Linked DNA regions of Homo sapiens: region 2 is linked to region 1. The links come from fine-mapping of genetic effects on gene expression. A gene starts in region 1. The other region holds a variant in brackets. All regions are shown on one strand. Distances are from middle to middle.

What was found. PIP is the estimated chance that this variant, and not a neighbour inherited with it, causes the effect.
Region 2: its variant is fine-mapped to the expression of ZNF691-DT in lymphoblastoid cells (GTEx, PIP above 0.99).

Annotation. Positions count from the first base shown.
Region 1 is chr1:42,844,611-42,849,007 of GRCh38, forward strand. ZNF691-DT (ZNF691 divergent transcript) reads right to left here and starts at 1,804. Exons shown (of 5, transcript NR_186083.1): 1 at 1,647-1,804; 2 at 1-74. It overlaps ERMAP (erythroblast membrane associated protein (Scianna blood group)), which reads left to right. Exons shown (of 12, transcript NM_001017922.2): 12 at 1-381. It overlaps ZNF691 (zinc finger protein 691), which reads left to right and starts at 2,003. Exons shown (of 4, transcript NM_001242739.2): 1 at 2,003-2,047. RefSeq lists enhancers at 1,540-1,809, 1,970-2,039.
Region 2 is chr1:42,835,383-42,839,779 of GRCh38, forward strand. It overlaps ERMAP (erythroblast membrane associated protein (Scianna blood group)), which reads left to right. Exons shown (of 12, transcript NM_001017922.2): 6 at 350-382; 7 at 1,776-1,808; 8 at 3,519-3,539. It overlaps LOC124904163 (a long non-coding RNA gene), which reads right to left and starts at 2,277. Exons shown (of 2, transcript XR_007066035.1): 1 at 458-2,277. The variant C/T (reference allele first, on the strand shown) is at 2,527.

The DNA of each region.
Region 1 (4,397 bases):
CTTGACGCCAAGGAAGAGATGATGTTTAATTCAAGTCCGAAGGCAAGGAAAAAGCTGATGGTCCTGTCCAAAGGCTATTAGGCAGGAAGAATTCTCTTAGGGCAGAGTTAGCTCTTTTGTTCTATTCAGGCCTTCAACTGATTCAGCAAGGCCCGCCCACATTTGGGAGGACAGTCTGCATTACTCAGTCTACTGATTTGAATGTTAATGTCATTGAGAAACACCCTCACAGGAACACTCAGAATAATGTTTGACCAAATAGCTGGGCATCTTGTGACCCAGTTAAGTGGATACATAAGATTAACTATCACAGTGACTCAGTGGAATTTTTTGTTTGCTTTTGTACAGTTTTAAAATAAAAGTTTGGTATTTGTGTTTTGGTATGCTGTTATTTTCATTGTGAATGAGGAGTTGTGGGGAAGGTAAGAGATTGGTTTCCAAAGAGCTTTGAGTCCCCCAAGGCAAGGTTTAGCCACCGTTCATACTAAAGCCATAGTTTTATTCCTGAGTCTGCTCTCTAGTATTTTATTTTATCAATTTATAAACAAATAGTGTTCATAAGGCACACATATTTCACTCAACCATATTCAGTTCCAAACATGCATTCCTGAATATCCCAATCTTAAAACTAACTCACATTGTCAGCTTGTGGAGGCAGAATACATGCATACATATACACATACATACATGAATATACATATAATATACACACACATATGCATACATACACATATACACATGTATACATGTATGTGTATATACATATCTGTACTACATAGGTGTATATATATGTATATGTATTTAGCATGTATGCACGTGTATATGTATACACATATATACATATGTATGTATAATACATATTCACACATGTATGCATGTATATACACATGTATACATTAGTATATGTATATACACATGTATGTGTATTATACATGTATATATGTACATACATATCAGTCTACTGATTTGAATATTAATGTCATCAAGAAATAACCTCAATATATGTATGTATTATAACCTTACAACTATATAAAACATACATACATATATATGTATATATGTATACACATACACATGCATGAGAATATATGTATGTATATATAATATCCTCACAGTAATTCTGCCAGGGATTTTATGGGGGAGGGAGTTGGTACTCCAAATGGCTAGGTGGTAGAGCCAGAGTTTTATACTTGGTTTATCTAGCTCTGAAGGCAATGCTCCTTGTTCTTTGCACTGAAACATTGTGCAGATACGAGAAGCCTGTAGTTTACGTATTTCATTAGCCTTTTATTATTTTAAAAAATAAAACCTGAAAAAAAAGACCTAGTCCTGGATACTTTGGTGATCTTGTTGTGTCTGGATTGACGAACACGTGTCAGGCTTAATTAGGGATGCACGCGGAACCCGGGAAAATCCCTGCTCAGGGGGGCTGGAAGACCTGGAGGTTGATCCTTGAACAGGGTACTTTTAGCTTCTCCGATAAGGAGATTGGGTTATTTTATCTTTAAACTCCCTTCCAGCTCTACCCTCCTTTGATTTTAAGTTATAAACCTTGAGTGAGGTGCCAGACTCTAGGCTTCGTTGGACGTCTACAGGACGGTCAAGGATTACCAACTCAAAGTAAAGAAGGAAATTTGAGTACTTGCCCCCTTGGAGGTTGTGTAGGTTGGCTATACAGATTCTACAACTTCCCAGACGAGTGGCCCTGAGACTTGGGGCTGAACGCGCGAGCACGGAAAGAAATCCCACCGTAGGACGGAACCCAGTCTCTTCAGCTCCATCCTAAACTTCGCAAGTTTTCTCTGAGTCTACGCGCTTCCTTAGGACTACAACTCCCAGCATGCCACGCCAGCGGTCAAAGCTTATTGGTGGTCCTGCCAGGTCGCTTGCGTTGTGGCAGTCATGGTAGCCAATGGAAATAAAGAATTATCCCAAGAAACCAATCCTGGAGTAGTAGGGCGGATCCTTCCTGGGTTCCGGCTCCGGCTCCAGCTCCTTCCCTCGCCTACAGAGGCGGCGCTGTCCCTGATCGAGCGGCGGGAGCGAGGTGGGTCCGGGTTGGGCCCGAGGTCGCGGGGGGAGGCGGACACGACTTCGCGGGAAACTCTGTACACGGCCACTTCCCTCTCACCGAGGATCTGGATGCTGCTGCTTTGCTCCCTGGACCGAGTGGGAAGCCAAGGGGCCTTGTGGTCCCTCCGCCGCGACCCTCGCCCTGGCCCCCGGCCCACGCAGCCAGGTGGCTGTCCCCAACCCATTCCCCGGCCCTTCTGTTGGGTTTGAGTATACAGCCTTCCTGCCGCTGACCATACGTTTAGGATCAGCCCCTCCTCCTCTCCCACCTCTCTGGCCCCAAGCCCGCCGGCAATCTCTGAAACCAGCTCTTGTACCCTTGGACCTCCGCCATTGGCTTCTCCCCGCCCCGCAACACACAACTCAGCTCTTGGGCCCTGGCCTGTGACACTTCTGGCAGCCTTTGCTTCCTCTTCCCTGACCGTCTCCTGCGACCCTCTGACTTCCTTGGTCCTCCTGTATCTCTGACCCGTTATCTAGCTTCCCTGTACAATTACCCTGTTAGCACCTTGCTCTTGGTCTTTCATAGCTCCTCTCTCCTCTTCCTCCCTGCAGCCCTTGACTTGGCCCCAAAGACCTGTAACTTCGGACCTCCATACCGCACTATGGCTTGGCCCCTTGCCTTTAACCTAGGCGCTTCACCTTCATCATCTGTGATCACTAGCCCCATCTTCTTGGCTCTTAACTTCTTAGACCTGGCCCCTCCTCCACTTCTCAGCCCCTTCCACCGTTGCTTCTCTCTGTGCAGCTGAGCCACCAGGAAGACAAAGCCCAATAGACCCCTTTTCCCCCCAGATCTCTGCAGTGTGATATGAAAGTGCCTCTGTACTTCAGCTGCACTGTCTTCTCAGTAGGTAGTTGCCTCTTTATCTCTGCAAGTCCCAGTCTTACCCATCCTGCAAACCTTAGGTCAAATACCTACTCCTCCTTGAAACTTCTCAGCCCTGATTTCATCAGGGAGATACATCTGTATCATGTGAACTTCAGTGGTACTGTTTTTATTTCCTTCCTTCCCGTCTTCTCTCCTTTTTTCCTTCAGTAATAGTATAATGGTTAAAAGCACTGACTTTGAAGTGATGGGCATAGGCCCCAGTTCTGCCACTTACTTGCTGTGTGCCCTTGGGCAAGATACTTAATTTCTCTGAGCCTCAGCTTTCTCATCTCTAAAATAAGGATGATGTGAAGTGAAATTAGATGATTCATATATGGTCCTTAGTCCACAGCTTAGCACTTGATTCGAGCTTTAAAAAAATGTTAATAATGTGCCAGGTGCTGTGTTAGACACTGAGGAGTGGGTACAAAGGTGACTAAGGCACAGTTCCTGCCCCTGTCCCCTGAACTTAACCTTCTGCATTGTATGACAATTTCTGGAGTTCACGGTCTGTTTCAGTACACTGTATCACAAACTGAGTGGTAATCATAATCCTAAATCCTTTTGCTCTTACATTGACCTAGCATCCAGCCCCGGGTAGAGCTGGAACTTGGTAAATTATAGGTTCTCAGAATAGCAGTTTCGGAAGTGAGTGGAGGCTGAATAGCTCATTGCGTAGAGATACTGTAGCTGTAGGTCAGATGGGAGCAGGGCAGGGGGTGGGGGATGGGATGGTGGCGTGAATTAAGATCACATCCTGTCACTTATACATTCAAAAGACATTTGAGCACCCAGCTTTATGCTGCAGAAGGAGATTACTAATATGACCCAGTCCCTTTCCTCAAGTTGCTTATAAACTACTAATAGAAACAGACATGTTCTACTAGTAGTTGCAAACCACTATAAGCCAAGCACAAGATTCTGTGACTGCATAAAGGAGAAAGTAGGCAGGAATCAGGAGATTGCTGAGGAAAAGTGGGTGAGACAGTTCATGGTTACTTGTGTCCCATGAAGACAGAGCTGGTGTTTTATTCAACTCATTCAACAAATACTTATGAAGGATCTACTGTATATGGCTGCCACTACTCTAGGAGTTTTGGTTACATTGGTAAATTAAAAAAAAAACAAAAAAACAACAAAGACACCAGCTCTCATGGAACTTATGTTTTAGGGAAGCAGACAATAAATAATAGACATAAAGAGAATGTCAGAAGGTAAGATGTGCTATGGGGCAGGAGGACTGGGAGTGTGGGAGTGATTTTAATTTTTTAAAGGATGGTCAGGAAACAGTGTCTAAGTATCAAGGAATAGTTTCTCATGTTTACTTGCATTTTTGGAAGTAAAGCAAACCAATTATTTTTCATATTCTTATCTAAATTCTTCAAGGAACACTAACAGGGATTGGCAAACCACAGCTCACCTCCTGTTGCTTTAAATAAAGTTTTATTAGAGC
Region 2 (4,397 bases), 9.2 kb before region 1:
GAAAAATAAGAAAATAACCGACTATGCCAGCCTTCTAATTAACTAAGAAATGAATTACAGCCCTTTAATAAAGAAATCCAATTATATCCATTGGATAAGACTCTCATAAAAAATGGTCACATTTCACAGGATCTCAGGGCTGCAAGGGACTTTGAAAGTCACAGTCATGTAATCCAACACTCCTGCCCTTATCTGATGGTTTGAAGACTCTCTAATCCTTTCAAATGCCCGCTTACCTGTAGTGACAAGGAGTCAGTCCTACTCAGGCAGCTGGGGGCATCTTGGGACACTTGTGCCTGTTAGAAAAAGCCCTTCCTAAGCTGAGCTGGCATTTCTCTCTCCCTTTTAGAAAAGCTTCTCTATGAACATGTGACGGAGGTGGGTAAGTGTTCTTGGCTGGGGGGCAGGGGAGATGTTTCTTTTGTTGTTAATTTCTGTGCCCCCCATACCCACTAACCTGGATTCTGTTCCTGAAAATTCCATTATCTGCTATCCTTGGTGATGGTGGCAATGTCTAAATCCGTTGCTTCCAGTTTTTACTGCCTCTTACTTGTAATAGCTTTGCCTTCCTGTATGTTTAATGATTTTTGCCTGTGAGCTCATTGCTTGATCTTATTCTATGGGAGTCGAGTAGCTTGAACATGGGGGAAGCTTTTATTTGTTCAACAAATACTTGATAATTATCTACAAAATGCCCTGGACAATACTAGATTCTGGGGATGCAATAGTGAGTAAAAGCAGACACAGTTTTTGCCCTCCTGGAACTTTCAGTGTAGTCAGGGAAATGAGATGAATTAAATAGTTAACACAAATAAATGTGTACAAAAGCTACACAAGAAAGCTCCTGGTTCTGTGAAGGCTATGACCAGAATGAACCAACCAAGCTTGAGGGTTGAGGGTATGAAGTTTGTCCTGAAGGACTAGAAGTCATGAGTGAAGAGGGAATGGAAAACCAGCCACCGCAGAAAGAACAGCTTCAGAGAGAAGCATGGTCGGGGAAAGCAGCACTCACTGGGGAGTTGAGGAGGTGCAGGAGTGAGGGGAAAAGTGGCAGGGGTGAGGCTGGGGAGTGAGGCGGAGCTGAGCCTCCTGAGGCCTGGTGGGTCACATTCAGGATTTTAGTCATTCTCGTAAGAGCAGTGGTAAAGCAAGGAATGGGGATATCAGATGTAATTGTGCTTTGAAAAACTTGGCCGGGCATGGTGGCTCACGCCTGTAATCCTAGCACTTTGGGAGGCTGAAGAGGGTGGATCACCTGAGGTCGGGAGTTCAAGCCCAGCCTGATTAACATGGCGAAACCCTGTCTCTACTAAAAATACAAAAATTAGTGGAGCATGGTGGTGCGTGCCTGTAATCCCAGCTACTCAGGAGACAGACAGGAGAATTGCTTGAACCCCGGAGACAGAGGTTGCAGTGAGTCAAGATCGTGCCACTGCAATCCAGCCAGGGTGGCAGATTTTTAAAAAAAATCTGCAGTGAGTCAAGATCATGCCACTGCAATCCAGCCAGGGTGGCAGATTTAAAAAAAAAAAAAAAACTAAACAATTCTCTCAGGCTGCAGAGTTTAGTAGAGACCAGAGGGATTAAGACAGGATGTGGGAGACAATTTGGGCTGCCATTTCTGTTGTCCAGGTGAGAGTTGATTAGAGACCGGATCAGGGAGGTGGAGGTGAAGATAGAGGTGGACAGGTCCAAGGGCAGGTAAAATCAATAGGAATCAGGGATCCTCAAGGCAGTGGCAAAAAATCTCATTATCTTTTCCTTTCTTCCTCTAGACAATCTTCTTTCAGACCATGCTAAAGAAAAAGGTAATGATATAAAAGAGTAAGGGGTAGGGAACAAAAAACACATTCTTTATTTTTCTATGTAAATGTTGACAGTCATTATTATAAGTCTATTTTTATAATACTGTACACACATGCACACATATATCCTCCATTGATATTACTGGAATTTAGTGTGCAATGTTAAGGGGCTGTGGAGCTTGTGGCAGTGGGTAAGGAGGTGCCCAGGTCAAAATTCACAGGCCTAGATTACCATAAACTCCCTTCATTAGCCTTTCCGCCAACCATTTTAAAAAGAAGTCTACATATTATTGAAAAGTATATTAATGTGGTCATATGGGATATATGGGAATTTCAAGAATCCACACAACCTTTGCATAGAGAGAGGTGGTATGATACAAAGGAAGGGTCGCAGGCTCTGGGGTCAGTGACACCTCAGATCATTGGTCTGCCACTTAGGTTTTGGTTTCCTCATCAGCAAAATGCAGATAACTTCCCCTTACCTGATTGTTTTCAGTGTTAAAACAGGCAACCTTAAAAAAAAATCTGTCACAGTGCCTGGAACTCCTTTTCCTTATTGCCATTTTGTCTTCATTAATTTGACATTTACTGTGGGCCACTGAGTTGGACACCTTGTTGAAGTCTATCTGGGAAGACAAGTCACTGGCTCAGATGACTCCAGATTCAATGATGTCAGCGTCTCCTCTCTTCCCTCCTTACATTTCCTCCAAGCTGGTGCAAG[C/T]GTGGCGTGTATCTGGCAGACACTGGCTGTTCTGCTCAAGTGAAGAGGGAACAGTGTGGGGTAAGGGAGAGGGCCTCTAACTCAGGAGTCAGACAGACTTAGATTGAATCCTGCCTCCTTGGTCACTTACTAGCTGGAAGACCTTGGGCAAATTTTGTGTCCCTTTGAGCCTCAGACCACCCCCCTATAAAATGGCAATAATAATTCTAGGCATCTCACATTATTGAGAGGATTCAGTGCCTACTTCAGTATAAGCACAGCAGACAGTAAATGGAAGCTGTTAGTAGTGGAGATGGTAACAATAAACCATAAGCTCCTTAGGAGCCGTGTCGTATTCGGCTGCATTGCTCCAATGCCTAATGCCTAACACATGCCCGGCCCTTAGCACAGGGACTGGTGGTGGACTCAGGATGTGTAACTTCAATTGTCTAGCAGGGCCAATGCTGGGTAGGGGGAAATGTGGGCCACATGGCCCTCCAGAGAAGCTGCAAGTACTCCCCAGAAACACATGTCTCATACACATGTCCCCAAATCTTCTGGGACCTCCAATTTGTGAAATTTATAACCTCAGGGGAGTTACTGTAGAGAATAATACAGCCATATTAACAAGTTCATGCTAGGCCTTTAGCTAGTTTTACACCTTAGATACCATAAACGGTGGGCTATAAAAGGACAGCAGTGCATACACTCATGTACCGCAGTTACAAACATATAGAAACACTCATGCCGACAGCAGAAATGAAACCAGACAGATGAAAAGGAGGGGAAGGGGAAGGAGGAACCAAAGTCCCGGGCAGGCTGGGTCACTGGGACAGTGTCACCAGCACCATCAGATTTCTGGGTCTGAACTCTGGGACACGGAGCTGGACTAGGGACATAGAAGCGTCACCATCATTTTAATCTTGTGGGTTGGAGTGATGAGGCTGCCACAGCTCTGAGGAAAAAGAGGCAGGATCTGATCACTCACTCTTCTCTCTCTTTCTGGTTTTTAGGAAAACTCCATAAAGCTGTCAGTAAGTTTTGCTCCTCATCCATGGCACAAGCTCCTTCTGCTGACACTTTTGCTTTGGGATGAGCATCTCAGTTTCACTTCCTGGGGCAGAAGGGAGGGGGTACTGGTAATTCAAGCCATGGGGACTGGGGCTTTCTTGGCTCTCAAAGGCCTCTTTTCTCAAGTATTCTCTGCTCCTCTTTCCTGCACAACTATTATTTAGTCTTTAAATGAAAAACGTTTCACCAGGAAGAGATAGATGCATCTCCCATAGGTGAAGCCATCTGGAAGTCCCTTTTATCACCCAGGCATGACATTTCCTTAGATGGGGTCCAGGAGGACAGGATCCTTATTAAACTGAATATGCTGGAGCAGTACTTCTCCATCATTTCATGTGTGAGGACCTCTTTTTAACATTAAAAAAAAATCTGGCCAGGTGCAGTGGCTCATGCCTATAATCCCAGCACTTTGGGAGGCCAAGGCAGGTGGATCACTTGAGGACAGGAGTTTGTGACCAGCCTGACAACATGGTGAAACCCCGTCTCTATTAAAAATACAAAATTAGCTGGGTGTGGTGGTGCACGCCTGTAATCCCAGTTACTTGGGAGGCTGGGGCAGGAGAATCGCTTGAACCTGGGAGGCGGAGGTTGCAGTGAGCCGAGATTGCACTATTGTACTCCAGCCTGGGCAAAAAGAGCGAAACTCCATCTCAAAATAAAAATAAAAATAAATCTGTAGACATGTGACATATCTATGCATTAATTATTACATTGAGAAAATATACATGATCACAAAGTCCAATACTCAGTGATAGTTTTAAATGAAGTAATATTTCCTACAACATCTACATAATTTATGTTGTCATTACCTGTAGGTGTGA